Linked DNA regions of Homo sapiens. The protein of the gene in region 1 interacts with the protein of each later gene in a pairwise test. Each region holds a gene or a part of one and is shown on either strand. Other genes may lie near its edges. The genes, in order: TLR5 and RNF216.

The links.
Region 2: the proteins of TLR5 (region 1) and RNF216 interact in a two-hybrid assay, tested with the Homo sapiens proteins (one study listed by BioGRID).

Annotation. Positions count from the first base shown.
Region 1 is NC_000001.11:223,112,230-223,116,049, forward strand, and holds part of TLR5 (toll-like receptor 5 precursor), read right to left. Parts: intron 807-3,820; 5' UTR 803-806; coding exon 1-802. UniProt on the Homo sapiens protein: Pattern recognition receptor (PRR) located on the cell surface that participates in the activation of innate immunity and inflammatory response.
Region 2 is NC_000007.14:5,736,634-5,740,453, forward strand, and holds part of RNF216 (E3 ubiquitin-protein ligase RNF216), read right to left. Parts: intron 2,720-3,820; coding exon 2,643-2,719; intron 1-2,642.

The DNA.
Region 1 (3,820 bases):
CGGCACCCATGATGTGGTGGGCAAGAATCAAAGAGAAGGCCTGGCTTTTGCTGATGGCATTGCTAAAGTTTCCTGTGATGTCCACTGTCCAGCCATTTCCAGAAACATCTAGTATCTCCAGCACCATGTTTCTGAATGGGTTCATACATTTTCCCCAGTCCACTGAGACTCTGCTATACAAGCTATTAGCTGCGAGGCTAAAAAAGGAGAGCGTTTTCCCTTGTAGGGGCTCGAGCTCATGTTCACATACAAGGAATATTTGGTTGGAGGAAAAATCTATGGACTTTAAGGAATTCAACTTCCCAAATGAAGGATGAAGGTAAAGGCTACGAATCTGATTTTTGGATAGATCCAAGCGAGTTAAAGCCTTTAAATTTCTGAAATAACCATCTTTCAATACAGCATCAGAGAGACCACAGAAATACAGTCTAAGTTCAAACAGATGGAACAGTCCCTGAAAAGCATCTGGATGCAAGAAGTATATCTTACTACTTCCCAGGTCCAAGATTCTAAGGTTGGGCAGGTTTCTGAAGGCCTCCTTGTCAATAGTCAAGGGGGTATACTGGCTCCCGAGCTCCAGCAGCTGCAGCTGTTCCAGAAAGGGGAAGGATGAAGCAGTGACTGTCCTGATATAGTTGAAGCTCAGCAGGAGCCTCTCAGTGGTGTTGAGGACCTGGGGGACCTGGGTGAGGTTGCAGAAACGATAAAAGGCTATTCGGCCATCAAAGGAGCAGGAAGGAATTCCAAACACAGGACCGGCCATGAGCACCACTCCTAGGAGAAGGTCCAGGTGGTCTCCCATGATCCTATGGAGAAGAAGGGAGAATGAAAACACAGGCATTTAAGCTCGAGGTATTGCACTGGGGTCTTCAGATCTTGGGGGTATTCTCTATGATGTGCCTGCTCCCTTTGACCCCTTCATTCCTCTGACTCCACAGACGTGGCTGTTGGCAGATACAGACAAAACTATTCTTACTCTATTTCTGTTTTTTTTGAGACAGGGTCTTGCTCTGTTGCCCAGGCTGGAGTGCAGTGGCATGATCACAGCTCACTGCCACCTCCGCCTCCCGGGTTCAAGCCATCCTTCCATCTCAGCCTCCTGATTAGCTGGAACTACAGGCACGTGCCACTGTACCCGGCTAATTTTTGTATTTTTAGTAGAAATGGGGTTTCACCATGTTGCCCAGGCTGGTCTCCAACTTGTGGGCTCAAGTGACCTGCCTGCCTCAACCTCCCAAAGTGTTGGGATTACAGATGTGAGTCACCACACCTGGCCTATTCTTGCTCTCTATCAAACACTTACGTTGAATTTTCTGTATACTAGGCACTATTCTAGGTACTTAAAAAACATTTCACTTAATCTTTTCTTTTAAAAAAATTTTATTTATTATTCTAAATTAAAATAAAAATATAGAGATGGGGGTCTCGCTTTGTTGCCCATGCTGGTCTTCAACTCCTGAGCTCAAGCGATCCTCCTACCTTGGCCTCCCAACATGCTGGGATTACAGGCATGAGCCACTGCACCCTGCCTTCACTTAATCCTTATAATAACTCTATGTTTCTTCATTCATTCGTTTGTTTATTCATTCATGATTTGCTGAGGGGAGGTGGAGAAAACAGCAGGAAGAGACACAATGTTGCTTCACTTCAGCCGGGTACCCCGTTCCTAGCCCACAGAAAGCTCGGCTGATGAGTGGAAAATAAATTCACTGTTTTTCTCCCTTAATTTGTCTAGGCTACTGGCCCATCTCCATTTATCCGACCTTACTCCACACACAGTCCATCCCATCATGCAGAAATTGGGCACTTTCTGGCACCCCACAAAGAGCCAGATGTGATCGGTTTAATAAAAGTGTGATAAGTGCCTAGTGCTCGCCTGGCAGCTGTGTGATTGTGTGAGTGTACGACAATAAACAGAGACTGGCCCACTTGCTTAAGTCCTGTCGGGGAGCTAACCATCTGTCTGGGTTGAGTGTTTTTTTCATGGGTGCAGCAGAAATGGTGCTCAATGAACGTGTCTGGCTTATGTTCCAAGTATTGTGCTGGGTGCTATGAAGAGAAAACACACAAGGACCCCACCTGCAGAGAGCTTGGTGTCTATTATTTGCACAGCACCTCCATCTTTGGTGCCTACTATGCATTCCATTTGCTTTAAATGTAATGAAAGGCCTCTGTTGGAAGGTAAAGGAAGAGTTATATAGCTCAGAGGGCAGGAGAATGAGAGGAAAAATAAATGAAAGAAATAGGAAGAAGGCAATGGTTTATAAAGAGCATGAATCCCATGAGACACCATCACTGGCAAAAGTGTCAACACCAGGAGAGATTAAGCCTGGAGCAGTCACGGTGCTGGAGGTGGGCTAGCTCTGACGAGGTTGTGCTTTGTGCTGGGGCTGATGTATGGTGGGGTTTCCACAGAAACTGGGAGGCTGTGGCACACAAGCTACAGCAAATCAGAAGTAGGCATGGATGCCTGGATTGACTCAAAGTTTCAAACTCAGGCATCTAATAATCGTTAGGAAAAACTTGGTGAGAATGTTTATCACCACTCTGAATTTCTCCCCCATCTCAGTAAATGGCTTCACCATATCCATCCAGAGTCTCAGGGTGACAACACAGCAGAGTCTTTTAAACATCATTCTTTTAAACATCCCCCCAATATCCAATCCCTCAGCAAGTCCTGTTGGTGCCACCTCCCAAGCCTATCCACTGCCCTACTGTAAGCCGCCGCCATCTCTTTGCATGGGCCAGACTGGAGACTCCTCACTGGCTCTCTTATTTCTGGTCTTGCTTTCATTTTCCAGCCAGCAGCCAGCATGTTCTTTCAAAAACATAATCTGGTTTATATCATTCCTCTTTGTACAGGGCCCTTCCCTTCCTTCCTGCTGTACTTGGAATAAAATCCTGTGAGTACTTACATGATTCAGCTCTTGGCTGTCTTGTCAACATTATCTTGAATAGTTTTTCTCCTCAATAACTCATTAAAAAAATTTGCTGAGCACCCATTATGTGTCAGGCACTGTTTTATTTATTATTTATTTGAGACAGGGTCTCACACTGTCACCCAGGCTGGAGTGCAGCGGTGCTATCTCAGCTCACTGCAACCTCCGCCTCCCGGGTTCAAGTGATCCTCCCACCTCAGCCTCCTGAGTAGCTTGGATTAGAAATGTGTGCCAGCACGCCCAGCTAATTTTTGTATTTTTAGTAGAGATGGGGTTTCACCATGTTGGCCCAGGACGGTCTTGAACTCCTGACCTCAAGTGATCCACCGGCCTTGGCCTCTCAAAGTGCTGGGATTACAAACATGAGCCAGCACACCAAGCCTCAGGCATTGTTTTAGGAGCTGGAGATACAGCTGTGAGCAAAATGGACCAAGCCTGCCCTCATGGAGCTTACATTCTGGTGGACGGAAGAGGTGATAACAAAAGGAAGAGGAAATAGGTACTGACAGGCAGAGGTAAATGCAATGGAAGAAAGTAAAGTGGGAAAAAGGAGATGGGGGTGCCATGGCTCGGGTGGTGGCTGCTGTTTATAGAGAGGAGTCAGGAAGGGTGTCTCTGATGTAATGAGATTAGAGCAGGTGTCTAACAGAAGTAAGGAAAGGATGTGGAGAGGCCCAACGTTTGAGGGAAAGGAGCAGCCAGCACCAAGGTCCTAGGGTGGAAGTACCAGCCATCCTGGAATACACACATGGTACGCATTCCAAACTCTTTCCAGCCTCAGGACCTTCGCAAGTGCTGCTTCCTTCATGTGAACCCTCTTCTCTCTGCTCTTACTGTGGCGAGATCTCACATCAGTGTTTCCCCAGCGAGACTTCTCCTGC
Region 2 (3,820 bases), on another chromosome or scaffold:
GGAGCGCCTCTTCCCGGCCACCATCCCTTCTAGGAAGTGAGGAGCGTCTCTGCCGGGCCACCCATCATCTGAGACGTGGGGAGCGCCTCTGCCCCGCCGCCCCATCTGGGATGTGAGGAGCGCCTCTGCCAGGCTGCGACCCCATCTGGGAGGTGAGCAGCGTCTCTGCCCGGCCGCCCCGTCTGAGAAGTGAGGAGCCCCTCCGCCCCGCAGCCACCCCATCTGAGAAGTGAGGAGCCCCTCCGCCCGGCAGCCGCCCCGTCCGGGAAGTGAGGAGCCCCTCCGCCCGGCAGCCGCCCCGTCCGGGAGGTGGGGAGCACCTCTGCCCGGCTGCCCCTTCTGGGAAGTGAGGAGCCCCTCTGCCCGGCCGCCACCCCGTCTGGGAGGTGTTCCCAACAGCTTATTGAGAACGGGCCATGATGACGATGACAGCTGTGTCGAATAGAAAAGGGGGAAATGTGGGGAAAAGATAGAGAAATCAGATTGTTGCTGTGTCTGTGTAGAAAGAAGTAGACATAGGAGACTCCATTTTGTTCTGTACTAAGAAAAATTCTTCCGCCTTGGGATGCTGTTGATCTATTACCTTACCCCCAACCCAGTGCTCTCTGAAACATGTGCTGTGTCCACTCAGGGTTAAATGGAATAAGGGCGGTGCAAGATGTGCTGTGTTAAACACATGCTTGAAGGCAGCATGCTTGTTAAGAGTCATCACCACTCCCTAATCTCAAGTACCCAGGGACACAAACACTGCGGAAGACCCCAGGGTCCTCTGCCTAGGAAAACCAGAGACCTTTGTTCACTTGTTTATCTGCTGACCTTCCCTCCACTATTGTCCTGTGACCCTGCCTAATCCCCCTCTGCGAGAAACAACCAAGAATGATCAATTAAAAATAATAATAATAATAATAATAATAAATAAATAAATATAAATCTGATGACAGTGGTTGCCTCTGTACAGAGGTGGGATCAGACAAGGCCACTAATGGCTCCAACAGTGTCATTGTACAAATTAGAAAAAAGTACCTACATTGGGCTAAGCACCTGGAAAGGGGCCCTTCCTTCTCAGCCTTGGCAGGGAAGAAACTCACCTGCAACCTTGACTGAGAACTACAGTATAAGATAGGAACTTTGGGGAAAGGTGTTTAGTGAACTATTTTGTTTAAATTTACCACCAGGCTGAGCACGGTGGCTTATGGCTGTAATCCCAGCACTTTGAGAGGTGGAGGTGAGCAGATCATGAGGTCAGGGTTTCAAGACCAGCCTGACCAACATGATGAAACCCTGTCTCTACTAAAAATACAAAAATTAGCCGGACAGGGTGGAGTACGCCTGTAATGCCAGCTACTCAGGAGACTGAGCAGGAGAACTGCTTGAACCTGGGAGGTGGAGACTGCTGTTTAAGCCAAGATCGCACCACTGCACTCTAGCCTGGGCAACAGAATAAGACTGTCTCCAAAAAAAAAAAAAAAAAAAAAAAAAAAAAATTACAATTATTTCACCTCTGCAGATTAGAAGGAGGGGAAAGAGTATATTTTTCATTTTATATTCTTCAGGAAAACTTATTTTTTAAAAAAGCATATTTACCACTTATAAAAAATTTTTTTAAAATAAGAGACAAGGTCCCACTCTGGCTCCCAGGCTGGAGTGCAGTAGCGTAACACAGCTCACTGCAGCCTTGAATTCCTGGACTCAGGCAATCCTCTTGCCTCAGCCTCCCAAAGTGCCAGAATTAAAGGTGTGAACCATATGTCTGGCCCGTATTTATCCCTTTTATAATGAAAATTAAGAAATATGGCTGGGAGCGGTGGCTCACACCTGTAATCCCAGCACTTTGGGAGGCCGAGGCGGGTGGATCACGAGGTCAGGAGATCGAGACCATCCTGGCTAACATGGTGAAACCCCATCTCTACTAAAAATACACAAAATTAGCCAGGCGTGCTGGCAGGCGCCTGTAGTCCCAGCTACTCGGGAGGCTGAGGCAGGAGAATGGCCTGAACCTGGGAGGCGGAGCTTGCAGTGAGCCGAGATCGCACCACTGGACTCCAGTCTGGGAGACAGAGTGAGACTCCGTCTCAAAAAAAAAAAAAAAAAAAAAAAAATGCTTCCATGTATTTCTCCAAACAGAGTGGTTGCAGAACATTTTGTTACAATCGTAGGGAAGAAAATGTCTTAACATCTTGACTAAAACACAGGTAGTATCAACGCTTAGAAACAACTCAGTTATCATAATTCTATAACCATGCAGTATTCCATAAAATCCAGAAAACAGTCTGTGTATCACTAATGTCAGAACGAACAAGGTCATTAAAAAAGACATAATGCCAAGTGAAATAAGCCAGTCAGAAAAGAACAAACACATGAGGTCCCTGATAGTAGCCAAATCCATATAGAAAGAAAGTAGGATGGTGGGTGCCACTGGCTTGGGAAGGGGATGGGGAGTGAGTGTTTAATGCGGACAGAGTTTCAGTTTGAGAAGATGAAAGAGTTCTGAAGATGGATGGTGGTGATAGTTGCATAATAATGTGAATTTACTTAACAACACCAAATTGTATATTTAAAAATGATTAAAATGGTAAATTTTTTATTACATATATTTTACCACCACCACCACCACCACAAAAAAAGCATGGTAGTATACTTACACATTCAGATCATAATAATTCTTAAAATGAATTATTTCCTCAATAAACCCATTTGCTACATCTGGAAATCTTGCTTCCTAGAAACAAATAAGAACATAATTTATATTTCATTCACTAGAATGGTTTCAAATGGCAATACAAGACAGATGGCAAAAAGTATAATAAAATGACTAAAGACTAGAAAAGGGCTGTGAAGCAGGTCTGTGTGTGTCTTCAAATTCAACACTAGTTCCCAGATTCATCTGTCTACATAGAAGATGAGGTCTAGAAAGGTCTTGAGAGATCTGGTTCTCTGTCCCCATTTTACAGATCCATTCTTCATTGCTTCAACAAATATTGAGCATCTCTGTCTAGACAAAGGGAATCCAAACACAAATAAGTTACAATCTCATGCCAGCCCTCAAGCAGCACACAACCTAGTGCCTAGATAAAAACACCTGGGTGGCCGGGTGCAGTGGCTCATGCCTATAATCGAAGCACTTTGGGAGGTCGAGGCAGGCGGATCACCTGAGGTCAGGAGTTCAAAACCAGCCTGGCCAACATGGTGAAACCCCGTCTCTACTAAAAAAATACAAAAATTAGCCAGACGTGGTGGTATGTGCCTGTGATCCCAGCTACTCGGGAGGCAGAGACAGAAGAATCGCTTGAACCCAGGAGGCGGAGGTTGCAGTGAGCTGAGATCGCACCACTGTACCCCAGCCTGGGTGACAGAGTGAGACTCGGTCTCAAAAAAAAAACAAACCAAAAACAAAACAAAAAAAACCCGCCTGGGTAAAGTAGGGTTAACGGACTTGTTTGAAGGCAAATAGTGGCTACCAGATGTAACACCTTTTTTTTTTTTTTTTTTTTTTTTTTTTTTTTTTTTTTGTGAGATAGAGTCTCACTCTGTCGCCCAGGCTGGAGTGCAGTGGCACGATCCTGACTCACTGCAAGCTCTGCCTCCTGGGTTCACACCATTCTCCTGCCTCAGCCTCCCAAGAAGTTGGGACTACAGGCGCCCGCCACCACGCCCGGCTAATTTTTAATTTTTTTAGTAGAGACAGGGTTTCACCGTGTTAGCCAGGATGGTCTTGATATCCTGATCTTGTGATCCACCCACCTTGGCCTCCCAAAGTGCTGGGATTACAGGTGTGAGCCAGCACGCCCAGCCCTTGTGTTACTCTTAATATCACCACTAA